Linked DNA regions of Homo sapiens. The protein of the gene in region 2 interacts with the protein of the main gene of each other region in a biochemical or structural test. Each region holds a gene or a part of one and is shown on either strand. Other genes may lie near its edges. The genes, in order: ISG15, USP21 and NANOG.

Evidence for each region.
Region 1: the proteins of USP21 (region 2) and ISG15 form a complex in vitro, tested with the Homo sapiens proteins (2 studies listed by BioGRID, with this or other methods).
Region 3: the proteins of USP21 (region 2) and NANOG form a complex in vitro, tested with the Homo sapiens proteins (3 studies listed by BioGRID, with this or other methods).

What each region holds. Positions count from the first base shown.
Region 1 is NC_000001.11:1,011,329-1,015,075, reverse strand, and holds ISG15 (ubiquitin-like protein ISG15), read right to left. Parts: upstream 1,580-3,747; 5' UTR 1,503-1,579; coding exon 1,500-1,502; intron 1,093-1,499; coding exon 598-1,092; 3' UTR 536-597; downstream 1-535.
Region 2 is NC_000001.11:161,157,815-161,161,561, reverse strand, and holds the start of USP21 (ubiquitin carboxyl-terminal hydrolase 21), read right to left. Parts: upstream 2,063-3,747; 5' UTR 1,884-2,062; exon of another isoform or gene 1,862-1,883; coding exon of another isoform or gene 1,796-1,861; exon of another isoform or gene 1,197-1,795; 5' UTR 1,056-1,196; exon of another isoform or gene 943-1,055; coding exon of another isoform or gene 922-942; coding exon 322-921; intron 1-321. Other genes in the region: UFC1 (ubiquitin-fold modifier-conjugating enzyme 1), read right to left, coding at 3,070-3,150, 3,351-3,441. UniProt on the Homo sapiens protein: Deubiquitinates histone H2A, a specific tag for epigenetic transcriptional repression, thereby acting as a coactivator.
Region 3 is NC_000012.12:7,792,255-7,796,001, reverse strand, and holds part of NANOG (homeobox protein NANOG), read right to left. Parts: intron 3,053-3,747; coding exon 2,790-3,052; intron 1,546-2,789; coding exon 1,459-1,545; intron 1,324-1,458; coding exon 907-1,323; 3' UTR 1-906. UniProt on the Homo sapiens protein: Transcription regulator involved in inner cell mass and embryonic stem (ES) cells proliferation and self-renewal. Imposes pluripotency on ES cells and prevents their differentiation towards extraembryonic endoderm and trophectoderm lineages.

The DNA.
Region 1 (3,747 bases), about 160 Mb from region 2:
AGTGGTGATGTGAGTGCTCAGGACCTGTCTCTACCCCTCCCTAGCCCAGCCCAGGCAGGTGGAGCAGGCTGTGTAGGCTGGGCTAGGGACGGCTGAGGTCCCCAGCCCCCAGTTCCTATGGAGAGCCTGCCTCACAGCCCACCGGGCAGGCCCCAAGGACTCACCCCTTACTGCTCCCAGGGGCCCACTGGGAGCCTCCCCTTTTGATCTGATCAGGCGGGTCCCTGCCTAAGCCGTCTGCTGTCCCAGATGGAGGACAGGCAGGATGGGCTCCAGCAACTGTGTCTCTTTTTCTTTTCCTAGAAGTTAATTTCCCAAAGGGTGGGGAGAGCTGTCTTACTTCAGTTTCGGGGTGGGGGGCTCCCTATTTTGATCCCTCGAAGCTGTAACTGCAAACCCTTATCCCTTCACTTGGCAGCCCAGGCCTGGTCACCAGGATGGACCCTGGGTTCTCCCTCCTGACTTCTCCCGCCCCATCACCAGGGGTCTGAGGCGGACGCTGGAGGAGGGGCAAGCACAGACACAGAGGCGGCCATTTCTCTTTACAACAGCCTTTATTTCCGGCCCTTGATCCTGCTCGGATGCTGGTGGAGGCCCTTAGCTCCGCCCGCCAGGCTCTGTGCCGCCTCCCCGCAGGCGCAGATTCATGAACACGGTGCTCAGGGGCTTGAGGCCGTACTCCCCCAGCGGGAGCTGGTCCTCCAGGGGCTTCCCCTCGAAGGTCAGCCAGAACAGGTCGTCCTGCACACCCTCCAGCCCGCTCACTTGCTGCTTCAGGTGGGCCACGGTCTGCGTCAGCCGTACCTCGTAGGTGCTGCTGCGGCCCTTGTTATTCCTCACCAGGATGCTCAGAGGTTCGTCGCATTTGTCCACCACCAGCAGGACCGTGCTGCCGGGGCCCAGGCCCTGGCTGGCAAGGGGGACCCTGTCCTGCAGCGCCACACCGCTCGGGTGGACAGCCAGACGCTGCTGGAAGGCGTGCACGCCGATCTTCTGGGTGATCTGCGCCTTCAGCTCTGACACCGACATGGAGCTGCTCAGGGACACCTGGAATTCGTTGCCCGCCAGCATCTTCACCGTCAGGTCCCAGCCCTGCAGGCGTCACACAGGTTCAGAGACTGCGGCGCCAGCCCCAGGCCCACCACACACAAGGCACTGGCTGCAGGGCGAGCTCCTGTACCCAGGGACAGTGCTCCCTCCTGTCTGTCCTCTACATCCCGCCGGCAGGGACCCCAGGCACAGAAGGCACTGAGGGCTCGTTACTAGAAGGCCAGCTGCCCACCGCCATCCCGTGGCCTCCCTTTACCTGCTAGGGTGCCCCTCTGTGCCCCACCCTGAGGATCTCAGGGGTGACCTGCTTTCAGGAGCACACTTAGAACCTGGCCAAGCTCTGAGCAGCTCCGCTCTCCCTGCACCCCTGGGAGACCTTGGCTGGGGGAGGGAGACGAAAATTGGCTGGCACAGAGCCCACCTCCCCCCACCTGTGACATCTGCCTTACCATGGCTGTGGGCTGTGGGCTGTGGGCCACGGCACAAGCTCCTGTACTGGCAAAGATGAGTTCGCTGCCTCTCAGCCGCCGGCTTCGGCAGGCAGCACCGGCCCTATTATAAGCCTGAGGCACACACGTCAGGGGGCGTGCCGCCGAGCCTGCGCTGGTGGCCAAATTTGGCTTCAGTTTCGGTTTCCCTTTCCCGAGGCATGCCCCAGAGTGAGCGGAAGAAACAAAACCGAATGACCGAAAGACAGGGAAAAGCAAAAGTGGCGGGGACTCCGGACAGCGGACGGCATCCCCACCCCCACCCAACACCCTGGAAACACCTAAATATCGCGCATTCCAGATCCTTCACAGGATGCACTAAAGCTGTCATCACATGGACTAATGGTTTCATTTTCCATTTACCAACTTGCAAAATTAGTAAACTTGGAAAACATCCCCATGGTTAATTGAGAAACAAGAACTCCAAACTACCCAGAGATAACAACACTCGGTTTAGGGCAGTATTTGCTCAGATTGGTGTTTTTTTGTTGTTGTTTTTGTGTTTTTGAGACAGGGTCTCTCACTCTGTCGCCCAGGCTGGAGTGCAGAGGCACGATCTCATCTCATTGCAACCTCCGCCTGCCAGGCTAAAGCGATCCTCTCACCTCAGCCTCCCACGTAGCTGGGACCACAGGGGTGCACCACCAGGCCCGGCTAATTTTTTGTATTTTTAGTAGAGATGGGGGTCTCGCCATGTCGCCCAGGCTGATCTCGAACTCCTGGGCTCAAGTGATCCACCTGCCTCGGCCTCTGAAACTGCTGGGATTACAGGCGTGAGCCACTGCACCCGGAGCCTCAGATTGTTTTTTAATAAAAGAGACCTATCTTTTATTTTCTACAAAAATGAACTCTGGGACACTATTGAGAAAGTGAAAAGACAATCCATAGAATGGGAAGAAATATTTGCAAATTATCTATCTGATGAGGGCATAGCATCCAGGACATATAGAGAACTCTTACAACTCAATAAAAAATAAAAATAAAAAAAAAAGGCAACTCAATTTTCAAATGGCCAAAAGACTTCAATAGACATTTCTCCAATGACATAGAAACGGCTGTAAAGTGATGTTCAACATCATTATTAATTGGGGAAATGCAAATCAAAACCCCAGTGAGATGCTATTTCCTGCTGGTATGACTGTAATAATAAAAATAAAGGCCAGGCCGGGTGCGGTGGCTCACGCCTGCAATCCCAACACTTTGGGAGGCTGAGGCGGGCGGATCACCTAAGGTCAGGAGTTTGAGACCAGCCTGGCCAACATTTTTAGTAGAAACCCCATCTCTACTAAAAATACAAAAATTAGCTGGGCGTGGTGGTGCACGCCTGTAATCCCAGCTACTTGGGAGGCTGAGGCGGGAGAATCCCTTGAACCCAGGAGGCAGAGATTGTGGTGAGCCAAGATTGCACCAATGCACTCCAGCCTGGGCAGCAGAGCAAGACAGTCTCAAAAAATAATATAAAATAAACATAAAGGCAGTAACAAGCACTGGGGAATACATAGAGGAACTGGAATCCTGGTACATGCATTGCTGTTGAGAATGTAAAACAGTGCGGCCGCCGCGATGCTCAAAACGTTCAACAGAATTATTGGGAACCCAGCAGTTCCACTTCTAGGCATGTGTCCAAAAGAATTGAAAATAGGTGTTCAAATACTTGCATACAAATGTCCATGGCAGCACAGTTTACAATAAACAAGTAGCAGGAACGGAGCACATGTCCATCAGTGATGGATGGACACACAAAGTGTGGAATGTCCACACAACGGAATATTATGCAGCCATGAAAAGGACTGAGGCACTGATTCATGTGAAAGAACCTTGAAAACGTTATGCTAAGTGGAAAGAGCCAGACACGAAGGCCGCAGAGTGTTGGTTCCATTCACCGCAGGGGAAACGACCGGAACTGGTAGAGCCGCAGCACAGGAAGCCGACCCCGTTACCGGGGGCCAGGGAGGGGGAGTGGGGGGTGATTGCTTCAGAGCCACAAGCCCCTTTGGGGGTGACAATGTTTCAGAACTCCACAGAGGTGATGGTTGGACAACGTGGTAAATAACTAAACGCCACTGGATTTCATTCTTTAAAATGGTTAGTTTTATGTTATATGAATTTCACATCAATAAAAAGCAAAGGTGAAAAGGCCTCACCATACTTTCACTGTTTTGTAACCTGCTTCATTCATGCAACAGTGTATCATAAACATCTATCCAGG
Region 2 (3,747 bases):
TTAATTAGGCCTAGGCAGAGTCCCAGTAGAGAAGGTGCAAGCAAGGGAAAGGAAGGGCCTGGGGACCCAAAGAAGAATTCTAAATAGTTGGGGTAATCCCCTGGGGACCGAAATGGCACACCATGCTGAAGAGTCACCAACAACCCAAAAAAGGGTCTAGGAGGCTCAAGGGTATTTAAGCAAGGGAGAGGCATGTCCAAACTGCTGTAATGAAGGGCTGAGAAAGGAACTTCAGGGAAATGGGGGACAGAAAAGGCAGAGGATGGCAGGAAAGCACAGAGGAACATGGGCATGAAGGCCATGTGTGTGGCAAGTCCTCACCATCTTGTCATCAGAGTAGAAAGGCTCAGAGGACCGGGCGGATATCATGTGGAAGGAGCCATGGGAAGCAGGGGGCTCTGTCCGTATGCTGAACAGGGTAGGGGGTCCAGGAAAGCCCCCTAGGCGGCGGAGAGAAGTGCTACGTCTCAAAGTGGGTGGCTCAGGCCGGAGGGCCAAGCGGCTCAGTGCAGCCCCAAGCTCTCCGGTGCCACGGTGCCCTCCCAAGGCAATCCCCATTGGACGCAAGTCCCCACTGCTCACAGACTTGGAACGGGCTAAGTTGGTCCGAGATGGGAGAGGCAAAGCCACTGTTGGGGGTGGTGAGCCAGGCAGGGGAACCCCATGATCTGCTCGAAGGGGGCCTCTGGGACGAGGGCCTGAGGTCCGTCCCCGTCCCAGCTCCAGTTTCTTGAGCCGTTCATCAGGCAGACCTGGCCGGGGAGGCAGAGGTCGTAACATGGGGTTTGGCCCAGAGGCTGGGTTTCTGCGCTCCTTGCTGCGGGCCCTGGGGGCAAATGGTAGCTTGGATCCCACTCGGGGCTGGATATTAACAGGTGGCTCTCGGGTACGGCCCAGGCGGTGCTCAGAGGCCTGGGGCATTGTGGACACCACAGGCTGGACCTGGGAGGAGAAGAGAGTGTCAGCATTTGAATATGGGGGGAAATGGGAACCCAGGCTGCTGTACTGAACCCTGCCACACTAATTTTCCCTTATTGCTTTGCCCCATTCCATACCCACAATCTTGCTGTCCTCTCATTTCCACATTAGGTGGTTGGCTCAGTCATCACCACTACCACATCAACGAAAGTGGGGAGCAGTATACGCACTGAGGGCAGGAACCAGATCTATCGAATCAGCCATCGTATCCCCAGTACCTGGCATCGTGTTTGGTACAAAGTAAATACTTAGTATCTATTGGGTAAACAAATGAATGAAAGATAAGCAGCCCATGGCTTTGACCCTTTCTATACTCCCGACCCCTCCCTGCAGAACACATCTTTACTGAAAAGCCAGTGATAACTCCTATCTCGGCTCTAACGTAACATGGGACCCCATACCCGGCTAGTAAAGTAGGATGTGCCTCGGGTCACTTAAGACCCTAGCCAAATGGTAGTGTAGATGCAAGAATAACAGCCCAAAAGACAGCCCTCCATCCTCGAATCCCTGCCTCTCTGGGCTGCAAATGAAGCAGACTATATGGGTGACTTACGATCCATTCCCTCCCCCACCTCCGACCTCCGACATGGTGTCGAGGTTCAGAAAGCAGTAGTCGGGGATGGAGGACGAACAACTCCTTGACCCTTAATCTCTGCACTTCTCCCACCACAGCAGGGCTTTAGCCGGGTCCGCCCCCCTCGAGGGCAGAAAGGCCGAGACCGCTGATTGGCTACGGAATCCGGCGGCGTATTCCCCGCGGTCCAGGGATGCTGTCCCTCCAGCCCAGTTCTCCCAGGCCCCGCCGGGCCCCACGCGCCTTTGTGGAGAGTGTCCTCTCGGGTCTGGAGCAGTCTTCCCTCTGCGCCCCCCCACACCCCGCCATGCCATAACGCCCCGGCCCGTACCTGTCCCCCAGTGAGGCGGCGGGAGAGGCCAGCCAGGGCCAGGCCCCAGTTCAGGGCCACCCCCTACTACCCCCGTGCAGCCCCCCCGTGGGCCCGGCTGCAGCTTTAGCCGCAGCCGTTGCCCAGATCGCTCCCGCCGCAGGGGCCGCCGCCATCTTTGTTGGTCCCGCCCGGCCACCGGCCACCGGCTTCACCGTCTCTCAAAGCGCCTGCGCATCCACACCCGAACTCCTCCCACCGGTCCCTTGGCGCTTGCGTGAGCCCGCCCCCACGGCTCCGCGATCGACACCATGGAAACGCAGCCAAGTTTAGGGTCGCTGGTTCTCAACGCTGCCCAGAGAGGTCTTTAATCCATGACTCCAAAGCAAGTCCCTGAGGTATAGGGTGCCGTCGCCCCATCCTATAGCCCATAGGGATGGAGATCTGACAGTCGTAGTATGGCCGCGAGGCTTACAGCACAGATCCTTCCCAAACAGCAGGGGCGCAAGTATGGCAAACTGCAGGCCTGGGTCCAGCCCGCAGACCAGTGGAGAAGCATCTAGCACTTCACAGAGGGCTGGGAAGATCCCTGGAGGGCGGGAAGTGCTGGTCCGGCAAAACCACTTCTTGCAGGCTAACACGGTAGGGCAAAGCATGGCTCACCACTAAAGGACAAAGGTAGATCTGAGCAGCAGGGGGAACAGTCAACATTTCATTCCCACTCCTGACCAGAGCATCCCCTATTTCCGACTCTTTCCCAACCCAACCCGGCGTAGCTGTTCATGTGCCTCAGGTTTCAGCCCACTTGCCCTCTGTTAACAGCTCCCAATGAGAACCACAGGCTACCAGAGGAAGCAGCTTTTATTGATGGGTTATCTCCAGAAACCAGAAAGACTATATGTACTCACTTTCAGTTACCCCCGTGCCTCCAGAATCGCATGTTGCTCCACCTGGGGGCGGATATAAATTACCTCTAGATTGTCCAAAGCCCAGTCTTTCCCTTCCCTGTGCAGCCTTAGAAACTAAGTAGCAGTACTGTTTGGTGTGTGTTTGTTTCTTCCCCAGCAATGCCTACTGCAGCTACTTAGTAACAACTAGAGGTGGAGGGTGTCCGGGGAAGCAGTTAGATGAGTTAAGTGTGATGCACAGGAAAATAGTATCGTAGCCTATCAAAGGTCCCTCTGCCCTGCCTCAGTGGCTTGATTCTTCATTGGTTGCATTTCTCTTTGTGTTGGATGACGCCCTTCTGAATCAGATCAGGGATTTCCACTGCCAGCCATGGACCCAGCTGCAATACAAGGAAAATCCTGTGAGATTACTACCAGTCAATGCTTCTTGTTCCATTAGAAGCTCCTTCCTGGAGACAGATTCTGGGGGAACATGCTTAAGGGACATCACTGTTATTCCTTTTATTCTTAGCTGCTTTTCTTGTACTGCTCAGGGCCTAAGTCCCTCTTTCTCCTTTTATGCCAAATACACAAAACTTACCCCCAGAGCCATGAGATGAGCTAGTCCAAATTTGGGCACATTCCTGGCCCACAAAGGTTTGAAATGATCCGTCAGGCATATTTTGCCACCCCTATGAGAGGGACATGAAGAAGGTGTTGACATGCAAAGTTTACCATAAAGCACAGCAGCCTCTTGGGGGCATAGGAAGACTACTAGTGATCAGAATTGAGAACAAGTTCAGCTAAGTACTTTGCTTAGGCTCAGCAAAGGAGGGCCTGGCACCCCACTAGGCCAGCAGACCCTGGGAAAATCTCTGCCTCCAAAGTTCTTCCTTTTTTTTTTTTTCCTTACATCTTTTAAGTTCAGAGGTACACATGCAGGATGTATAGGTTTGTTACATAGGTAAACGTGCCATGGTGATTTACACATAGATCAT
Region 3 (3,747 bases), on a different chromosome or scaffold from region 2:
TAAAGGAAAAATAGTTGTTTCATTCATTTGAACTTAAACCAACTAAAGCAGTACTCATGTCATTACGATGCAGCAAATACGAGACCTCTTTCTACAAAGATTAGCACAACCAACAAATTAGGGGATATAGCAAAACAGAGCCAAAAACGGTAAGAAATCAATTAAGTATGTTACAGCTTAACCCTTTACCTCAATAGTTTTTAAAAAATAAGCAAAGCCTCCCAATCCCAAACAATACGAATACATCTTCATCACCAATTTGTACTTGTATTTCTTATTCTTGAGGTTAGATTCTAAACCCTAAAGATATCCAAACTAGTATTAGATCTACTTATCTATAGCCAGAGACGGCAGCCAAGGTTATTAAAATGTCTTTTCTAGGCAGGGCGCGGTGGCTCACGCCTGTAAATCCCAGCTGTTAGGGAGGCCGAGGCGGGTGGATCACAAGGTCAGGAGATCGAGACCATCCTGGCTAACACAGTGAAACCCCGTCTCTACTAAAAATACAAAATATTAGCCGGGCGAGGTGGCGGGCGCCTGTAGTCCCAGCTGCTCGGGAGGCTGAGGCAGGAGAATGGCGTGAACCCGGGAGACGGAGCTTGCAGTGAGCCAAGACCGCGCCACTGCACTCCAGCCTGGGCGACAGAGCAAGACTCCGTTTCAAAAAAAAAAAAAAAAAAAGTATTTTCTCCAGGAAGATCCAATAGGAAAAAAAAAAAAAAAGAAACCTCGCTGATTAGGCTCCAACCATACTCCACCCTCCATGAGATTGACTGGATGGGCATCATGGAAACCAGAACACGTGGTTTCCAAACAAGAAAAATCCTATGAGGGATGGGAGGAGGGGAGAGGAAGGATTCAGCCAGTGTCCAGACTGAAATTGAGTAATATCAGTTTCACTCATCTTCACACGTCTTCAGGTTGCATGTTCATGGAGTAGTTTAGGAATAAATCCATGGTTTGTGGAGTACTAAAATACCTAGTGGTCTGCTGTATTACATTAAGGCCTTCCCCAGCAGCTTCCAAGGCAGCCTCCAAGTCACTGGCAGGAGAATTTGGCTGGAACTGCATGCAGGACTGCAGAGATTCCTCTCCACAGTTATAGAAGGGACTGTTCCAGGCCTGATTGTTCCAGGATTGGGTGCACCAGGTCTGAGTGTTCCAGGAGTGGTTGCTCCAGGACTGGATGTTCTGGGTCTGGTTGCTCCAGGTTGAATTGTTCCAGGTCTGGTTGCTCCACATTGGAAGGTTCCCAGTCGGGTTCACCAGGCATCCCTGGTGGTAGGAAGAGTAAAGGCTGGGGTAGGTAGGTGCTGAGGCCTTCTGAAAGAGAAGGAGGGATTAACAGAAAGGGTACAAGGACAACCAGAACTGTCTGTGACTGGAGTTGTGTGTTTCAGGGATGGACAAGATTGAAAGATCACTGAAAGGAAAGAACAGAATGAAGTTTCCTGTTACCTGCGTCACACCATTGCTATTCTTCGGCCAGTTGTTTTTCTGCCACCTCTTAGATTTCATTCTCTGGTTCTGGAACCAGGTCTTCACCTGCAGGAAAAAATGATAGAAATTGTAAAATATTCATAATACAGAGGTACTTTGAATCAAAGTATATTGCTAACTTTTATTCCTGGCCAGGTGCCATATCTCATGCCTGTAATCCCAACACTTTGGAAGGCCAAGGCGGGCAGATTGCTTGAGCCCAGGAGTTCGCTACAGGCTAGCCAACATGAGGAAACACCGTGTCTACAAAAATACAAAAAATTAGCCGGGTGTAATGCTGCACGTCTGTGGTCCCAGCTTCTCAGGAGGCTGAGACGGGAGGATCGCTTGCACCTGGGAAGTGAAGGCTGCAGTGAGCCAAGATTGCATCACTGCACTCCAGCTGCGTGACAACAGAACCAGACTGTCTCAGAAAAAAAGAGAGAAATGAACATTTTGGATAGAAAATAAAGGCAAGGGCCGGGTGTGGTAGTTCACACCTGTAATCCTAGCACTTTAGGAGGCAGAGGCACGTGGATCACTTGAGGTCAGGAGTTGAAAACCAGCCTGGCCAACATGGTGAAGCCCCATCTCTACTAAAAAATACAGTAAAATTAGCCAGGTGTAGTGGCGGGCGCCTGTAATCCCAGCTACTTGGGAGGCTGAGGCAGGAGAATCCCTTGAACCCAGGAGGTGGAGGTTTCATCCATTTGTACTTAAACCAAGTAATGCTAATGTCATTATGATGTCTCATTATGAGGCCACTGCACTCCAGCCTGGGAGACAGAGTGAGACTCCGTCTCAAAAATAAACAAAAGAAAAGAAGGAAATAAAGCCTAGAAGAGGATAAGCCAATTAATGAAGGAAAATGGCCAACAAGTAATAAACAATGATTGGCCTTATTGAATGCACACAGATAAAAAACAAAACAAGCTGGAGTTGCTGGCAGAAAGAAAAAAAGGAAAAAAAAAGTTTTTATTTTAATGAGAACCAGTGTGAGTTAGGGTTTCTCCTACCCTGGTAAGTGGAGTTAGATACTTCTTTTTTATTAAGGAAACGTTGGAAAGATTTTCACAATATTGGTCTGTGCAAGAAAGTGGTTAAATTATGACATAATTATTCACATAATAGAATATTTAAGGAAAGAAAGAGGTGAAGGAAGTTACAAAAGCATTTCATCTTCATAAATTATTTGCAAGAGGCGATGTACGGACACATAGTACACACATCTACATGCATCCACAGAGGTCTTAGCCATGCAAATTAGTCCAATTTTTGTTCACCTTATTCCAAGGACAAAACAAGCCTACCTGTTTGTAGCTGAGGTTCAGGATGTTGGAGAGTTCTTGCATCTGCTGGAGGCTGAGGTATTTCTGTCTCTGAAATCTATCATTGAGTACACACAGCTGGGTGGAAGAGAACACAGTTCTGGTCTTCTGTTTCTTGACCGGGACCTTGTCTTCCTTTTTTGCGACACTCTTCTCTGCAGAAGTGGGTTGTTTGCCTTTGGGACTGGTGGAAGAATCAGGGCTGTCCTGAATAAGCAGATCCATGGAGGAAGGAAGAGGAGAGACTGTTGGGAACAAATAAAAGGACACTTTTGTCTAAAATTTTTCAAATATTAAAATATCCTTTAAAAAAATTGTTTTCAAAGTACTTTGATAATTCCCAGAACCCCAGATCTAAGTAATAAGAAGCAATTTCTTAAGCAGCCCTGGCACTTTGGCAAGCTTTATATAGTATTACTCCAAGAAGTCTTATCAGTATCTCCATTTTGTACATAATAGACTGCGTTGGGAGAGATCTATAATGGTGGCCAATGCATTGCTGAGCGGCGCTACCCCTTTTTTTTAAAATTAGGATGGAGGTTCACTCTTGTTGCCCAGGCTGAAGTGCGATGGTGCAATCTCGGCTCACTGCAACCTCCATCTCCTGGGTTCAAGCGATTCTCCTGCCTCAGCCTCCTGAGTAGCTGGGATTACAGGCAGGCACCATCACGCCTGGCTAATTTTGTATTTTTAGTAGAGACAGGGTTTCTCAATGTTGGTGAGGCTGGTCTCGAACTCCTGACCTCGTGATCCGCCTGCCTCGGCCTCCCGAAGTACTGAGATTACAGGTGTGAGCCACCTCATCAGGCCGGCGCTACCACCTTTTGCTTTAAACTGATGCTCAAAAGCTCCCACACTGGGTGTTAATAGGTCAGAATGGAGATTCACCAATTTTCACGTATTGCATCTCACCCTAAATCACTTTGTTTATGATCTTCAT